2 linked regions of the Homo sapiens genome follow. The protein of the gene in region 1 purifies or fractionates together with the protein of each later gene. This does not show direct contact. Each region holds a gene or a part of one and is shown on either strand. Other genes may lie near its edges. The genes, in order: ZBTB11 and CEP135.

Evidence for each region.
Region 2: the proteins of ZBTB11 (region 1) and CEP135 purify together in Homo sapiens (co-immunoprecipitation; one large-scale study listed by IntAct). This does not show direct contact.

Annotation. Positions count from the first base shown.
Region 1 is NC_000003.12:101,648,184-101,650,890, forward strand, and holds the end of ZBTB11 (zinc finger and BTB domain-containing protein 11), read right to left. Parts: 3' UTR 706-2,707; downstream 1-705. UniProt on the Homo sapiens protein: May be involved in transcriptional regulation.
Region 2 is NC_000004.12:56,007,805-56,011,639, reverse strand, and holds part of CEP135 (centrosomal protein of 135 kDa), read right to left. Parts: intron 3,314-3,835; coding exon 3,258-3,313; intron 1,906-3,257; coding exon 1,737-1,905; intron 229-1,736; coding exon 118-228; intron 1-117. UniProt on the Homo sapiens protein: Centrosomal microtubule-binding protein involved in centriole biogenesis. Acts as a scaffolding protein during early centriole biogenesis.

The sequences.
Region 1 (2,707 bases):
TTTAAGTAACTTGGGCAATTATGCAAACCCCCATTGGCTTTTAGTAAAATGAACATATTAAAACCTGTTAGAGCATTACTTAATTCACTTCGATTGACAATACATGCATTTCAGGGAATAACAACAGTGATTCAAATTGCTTAGTAGCAGTAGCAGTAACAAGTAGCCAAAAGTGCTTAAGGCGTCCATATTTGATCAGGAGACACCCATAGTTTTTGGAAGTCATCTCATGACAGCAATATGCTTTATGTTTCTAAAAAGGAATTGTTATAAATTAACAATGCCCTCTTGGTAACATTAAAACTGCACTGAATTTTTGGAACCTTCTTAACATTTGTTTCTACATGGAATTTATATAATTTACAAATTTACATTATTCAAAGCTGATGGTTGATGGCACAATATATAATCCTGTGACAAGATTATGAAAAGGAAGTTCCCAGATATCCTCACAGGACATGAGACAGGGGTGTGGCTCATTTGTTCACCCAAACCCCTTACAGGAGGGGAAGCATGCAGATGGGCAAGTGCAGGAGCTGGATTGAGTGCTTTTGGGCTCTGGCCCCACAGTAGCATCTGGTGGGGGGTGTCTGCAACTCCCAAAGCCCCAGTGGGAATGTTACAGGGCTCCTTTAGCTCTGCTGTCTACAGATAGCTTAAGTGTTAACTAGCTCAGTGCCCTCTTGGTACCTGCGTTCTTGTCCAGCGTCCAGGAAGAATCAGGTCACATGGACAAATTGAAGGATGGTAAATGCAGGGGATTTTATTGCTGGATAAAGGTGGCTCTCAGCAGGATGGATGGGGAGCTGGAAAGGGGATGGAGTGGGAAGATGATCTCCTCTCCAACCGTCCCCAGCTGAACTCCTCTGGACGTTTAGATGCTCCTCTCTTCTCTCCTCTGCCGCAACACTCTTCTGCTCATGGAGCCTGGGGTTTAGGGTTTATATGGATACAGGATAGGAGGGCGTGGTGGGCCAAAAGGCAACATTTGGGCATGAAAACAGGAATGCCTGTTCCCATTTAGGGCCATGGGTTTCCAGGCTTTTGCTGGGGAACTGCCCTCTTCTACCCATTATTTCCTTGCCTCTTGTCCATATCAATTATATGTAAGAGTAAGAAGTTTTAATATTGTGTTCCTCCAATCGTTATTTTTTAGTGTTTTATTTCCTTTCCCTTTAAAAATAAATTAACTTAATAACACATCAAGTAACAACTGATTTATGAACTGAAAATAGTAACAAGCTCAACTCCAAAGTTCATGCTTTTCAACAAGATTCAACATCTTTTATTTACATGTTTATGACATACATTAATGGTCATACACAATTTTTAAACTAAATCTAGTAACAACAGAGGATGGAACATAAAAGACACAATTCCAAATTTTAGTCAGGTTGAAATGTTTTTCCACTAACTGAAAGATAAGATAAATGAGCAGCCATTATAAAGTTATGGGCTGTATGTCAATTCACGTCTTAAAATTGAAAGTCAGCCACACAGCTGTTAAAACAATGGGAAATTTGCAAATGCAAATATATAATGCATGCACAGCTATCACATTTATTCTTTATCCTTAAAGCCATTTTTAAAGTAAACTGGGAGAGGCAACTTAGTAATATATGTACATCAAGGCACATTCTTTTCTTGTGCTTTAGGAATGATTTACATGTGATCTGCTTATATCTTAATTTTATACTTTATAACAGCTTCTAATACCTAAAAGCTTAATTTTTAACAATTATTCTTTGAGTGGTAGTTTCCCAGAGAGAAATGTGGCATCTCTCATGGTTATTTTCAAAGTCAGAAAATTGGATAGCTTGAGGAGGTGGGATTTAAAAATCAAACATATGAATTAATATAACTTAGTTTTCATAACCTTTAAAAATAATTTATCTTCAACAATTTAGTGGAACTGTAATCAATTTCTTCAAGTATGATACTATGAGGGCTGCACTGAATAATTTTCAACATTCTGAAATTACCTGACAATTACATGGTATCCACAGAGCTGCTGTGAATGTCTATATTGCTATCTGATTTCTCAACTGCAGTTTTTCAACCAAATTAAACAATTAAACATGATACAAAAGCTGAAAACATACCAAATCTAGTTTGTTTGTTCATTAACTTGTTCATTCTTTGCAAATAATGAGAATTTTTTTTTCCATTAATTGTCCTATGTTATCAAGGAGAATTTTCCTGTCAACAGTGTTTAATAACTGTGTTCTTTTCTCATGGTCAATTTACTTGCCTTGAAGAAATAGTATAGTAAGGTTTTAATAAGCATTTCATGCATTTTAATGGCATTTTAAAAATTAGCTATTCATTTATGGGTTCCTCATATAGATAAATATATTGTGCAAACTTGATTACAACATGTAACTCATAAGTGCTTTAAAATAGAATAAAGCATCCCTGACTTAAAAGGGGATAAAATAAATAGTAAGTCAAGAATCACAGATCTAAAGCATTTAAAAAACGTAATATACCTATGCATCCTATTGAAATGCTTTATATTAGAATTTTCTTTTTAATCCATAAACAGGGCAAATAAATCACAGAATCTCTATATTTTGAGAATAAAACAGAAGAAAAGCCAACTGGTGCAGCCTTTTAAATGCAAAATGTATAATAAAGTAATGTCAAAATGCAAATGAAACTGTACGGTTTTAAATTCAGTACAGTCATTTATAAACATTAATTCATA
Region 2 (3,835 bases), on another chromosome or scaffold:
AGGCAGTAGACAAGATCTCTACTTTAAAATGTTTAATATCTAATTGTAGAGGCACATGAAAAAGTTAAAAAAAAAAAAAACCTCAGTCTTAAATCCAACCTAAATAATATTTTTCACCTTGGCAGCCATTAAGCTCTCCCATCGTGACACCTCTGTTATGTATTTATGAACTCTGCTCTTCATTTCTTCTTTTTCTTGCACTGCTGCTTCCAATTCCAATGAGATTTCCTACAAATCAGAAAATTAAAGACAATCTAAAATGAACACAACACCAAATAAATTTTATTTATATTCAAATAATTCCTTTGGAATTGGAGAATAAGATAGAGTAGGGCAAAAGGAAAACTGTTCCTAAGTGTTATTTTCACATATTTTTCCTGGCTGATCTTGCCTTTTAAAATATTTCAGACAGAGTCTCATTCTGTCGCCCAGACTGAAGTGCAATGGCGTGATCACAGCTCACTGCAGCCTCGACCTTCTGGGCTCAAGCAATCCTTCCACTTCAGCCCTCCGAGTAGCTGAGACCACAGGCACATGTCACCATACCAGCTAATTTTTTTTTTTAATTTTCTGAGATGAGGTCTCACTATGATGTCCAGCCTGGTCTCAAACTCCTGGGCTCAAGCAATCCTCCCACTTTGGTCTCCGAAAGTGCTGGGATTATAGGCGTGAGCTACCACGCCTGGTCTGATACTGACTTTTTAACCAAACTTTATCACACATTTCCCATAATAGTCCTGATCATGTATCTGGCATTTACACTAAAGGCTAGCTATGGTCAGGGGTTGACATTAAAAAACATTCATATTTCATCAATATGCTTTATGCTGAATAATACGGAAAATAATTTTTTAAAAACGTAAGATGTTTAAAACAGTAAAATCACTGGTTTTCTCAGTACAATCTTTTAAGAAACCAGCACGAACAGAACTAACACCTTTCAGTACTTGCCATTCTAAAACACTCATTCATTTATCTACAGGTGTATTTTGGAGCCGACAGAAGCTTGCACAAATAATTAAAACCTATCCTGAGTCTTTAAAACACAGAAACTTTGCTCTGGGAGGGATGCTGATGTCCTCGCCCGGTAGGGTGACAATGATTTCTGACATACAGAATTTCATGCTCCCACCTTTAGGTTTCCTTGCAACAAAGACCAAAATGGTGAGAAGACCAGTTGCACCCATTAGACACCCTGTGATATATAGCAGCATTCTAAGCTATGTGTTTTTTTTTTGACAGAGTCTCACGCTGTTGCCCATTTTTTTTTTTTTTTTTTGGATGGAGTCTCACTCTGTTGCCCAGGCTGGAGTGCAGTGGCACGATCTCGGCTCACTGCAACCTCTGCCTCCAGGTTCAGGTGATTCTCCTGCCTCAGCCTTCCGAGCAGCTGGGATTACAGGCGCATGCCGCCAGGCCTGGCTAATTTTTGTATTTTTAGTAGAGATGGGGGTGGGGGGGGGGTTTTCACAATGTTGGCCAGGCTGGTCTCGAACTCCTGACCTCAAGTGATCCACCCACCTCAGCCTCTGAAAGTGCTAAGATTACAGGTGTGAGCCACTGCGCCCGGCCTAAGCTCCATTTTTTAATACCCTGATAAACACCATTGTCCTTAATGAATTATTTATGTCACTTATTTTTATATCATCAGATTTTAGAAAAAATATTTAGAGCTTTAATATTTAGCAAACAATGGAAAGTATAAAACTATCAAAATTTATGCCTTGTGTTCATACTTGATTTTCTCTTGCCATTGTAGCCAGGTCATCTTGCAGTCTTCTGTTTTCCTTAAAAGCGATTTCTCTAGATCTTCCTACTTCATCGAGTTCTTTGTGAGCTGCATCAAGCTGGCGCCGGAGGCTGTTTATCTCACGATCTCGATTAACCAATGTTTCTTTCAGCTGGCTGTTAAATGAGTGATGTGAAACTAATAAAGAAAACTTTTAAAAACTGTAGTTCATTTAAAAGAAAACTTATAGTCTAAGTATACTTAGAATACAAATATACTGTGATTATAAGAAATTATAACTGCTGCATTAAGAGACCTATTAATTAGGTAGAACAGGTATTTTAGAGCTCTACCAATAATTACATGCAAATGAAGTTAAAAAAAAATGTTATTCCAACAGTCAAGTAAACACAGAAAACTTTCAAGTGTTAAAAGTTGAATAGCTTGGGGGCTGGGCGCGGTGGCTCACGCCTGTAATCCCAGAACTTTGGGAGGCCGAGGCGGGCAGATCATGAGGTCAGGAGATAGAGACCATCCTGGCTAACACGGTGAAACCCCGTCTCTACTAAAAATACAAAAAAAAATAGCCGGGTGTGGTGGCGGGCACGTGTAGTCCAGCTACTTGGGAGGCTGAGGCAGGAAAATGGCGTGAACCCGGGAGGCAGAGCTTGCAATGAGCCGAGATCGCCCCACTGCACTCCAGCCTGGGCAACAGAGCGAGACTCCGTCTCAACAACAAAAAACAACAACAACAACAAAAACAGTTGAATAGCTTGAGCCCAGGAGTTCGAGACCAGCCTGGGCAATATAGGGAGACGTTGTTTCTACAAAAATTTTTTTTTAAATTAGCTGAGCGTGGTGGCACACGCCTGCAGTCTCAGCTACTCAGAAGGCTGAGGTGGGAGGATCACCTGAGCCTGGGGAGGGTGAGGTTGCCGTGAGCAGAGATCTCGCCACTACACTCCAGCCTGTGCGACAGAGTGAGACCTTGTCTCAAAAACAAACAAACAAAAAGTAAAGCATAGATTCAATTGGCAAATATTTATTAAATGTTTATAATCCCCACTATTATATAAAATGTTAAGGGTATGTAAAATAAATATAATAAGTGACTTTTTTCTTGAAGTGGCTTACAATCTGCCTAGAGAGACTATACATAAAATGTAAAATTTTGTGACAGTGCTCAAGATAGGTTTAGATGGAGAATAAATTCGAGATTGGCTACTAAAGTAATTTTAGGTTTTAATGATTAGGCTCCAAGTGGCATAATTATAGTAAAAATAAGGAACAAATAGGTATATAGGAGAATAGTTAATAAGACATAAGTGTTTAGATGTGGATGACAGAAAAGGAGAGGTTAAAGAAGATAACATTTTCAAGCTGGAGACTGAGAAAATGATGCTACCATTGACAAAAATGGGGAAATTGAAAGGGAAATTCTTCTATTGCTGCAATGCTACTGAATAGATAAAGCTGTATTCACTGAAAATCTCCTAAAAAGCTGGATGTAATTTCATTAATGACTTACTTCACAGATGATTCACACTCTGAGATCATTATCTTCATTTGAGCAACAGCTTTTTCCTATAGAAATTACAAAAATGTGTAAGATTTTAAACCAAAATGTCTTTAGCTAAATTTATGTAACTTGTCATATTCATATAGTTCAAATACACAGCTCAATTATATAAAGTATGCCTAAAACAAAGCTCCAAGTAAACATATCTCCATGTCCCAATCATACTTCACATACTGGCATGTTTTGACCAACCCTTGAATAGTTTTCTTGAGTTTGCTTTAATGAGATCTGATAAAATCACATTCTAGAAATAGACAAAATCACATTTTGAAGATTAACATTATTTGAAAAAAATGACATTTAAACATTAGAAAATATGGCCCTAGGTCTTAGAAACTTCTACATGGCCAATAATAACTGCATATTTGGGAAACTTCTGGGTCTAAAATGGTGGTGTAGTCACAAGCTGACTTCAATCCTGACAAAGAAAACCAAAAATAAATATACAATGCTAACATTATCATCAGCACTATCCCAGGACTCAAATATGAGGACGAGTCAGTTCCTGGGCCACAGAGACGTAAAAA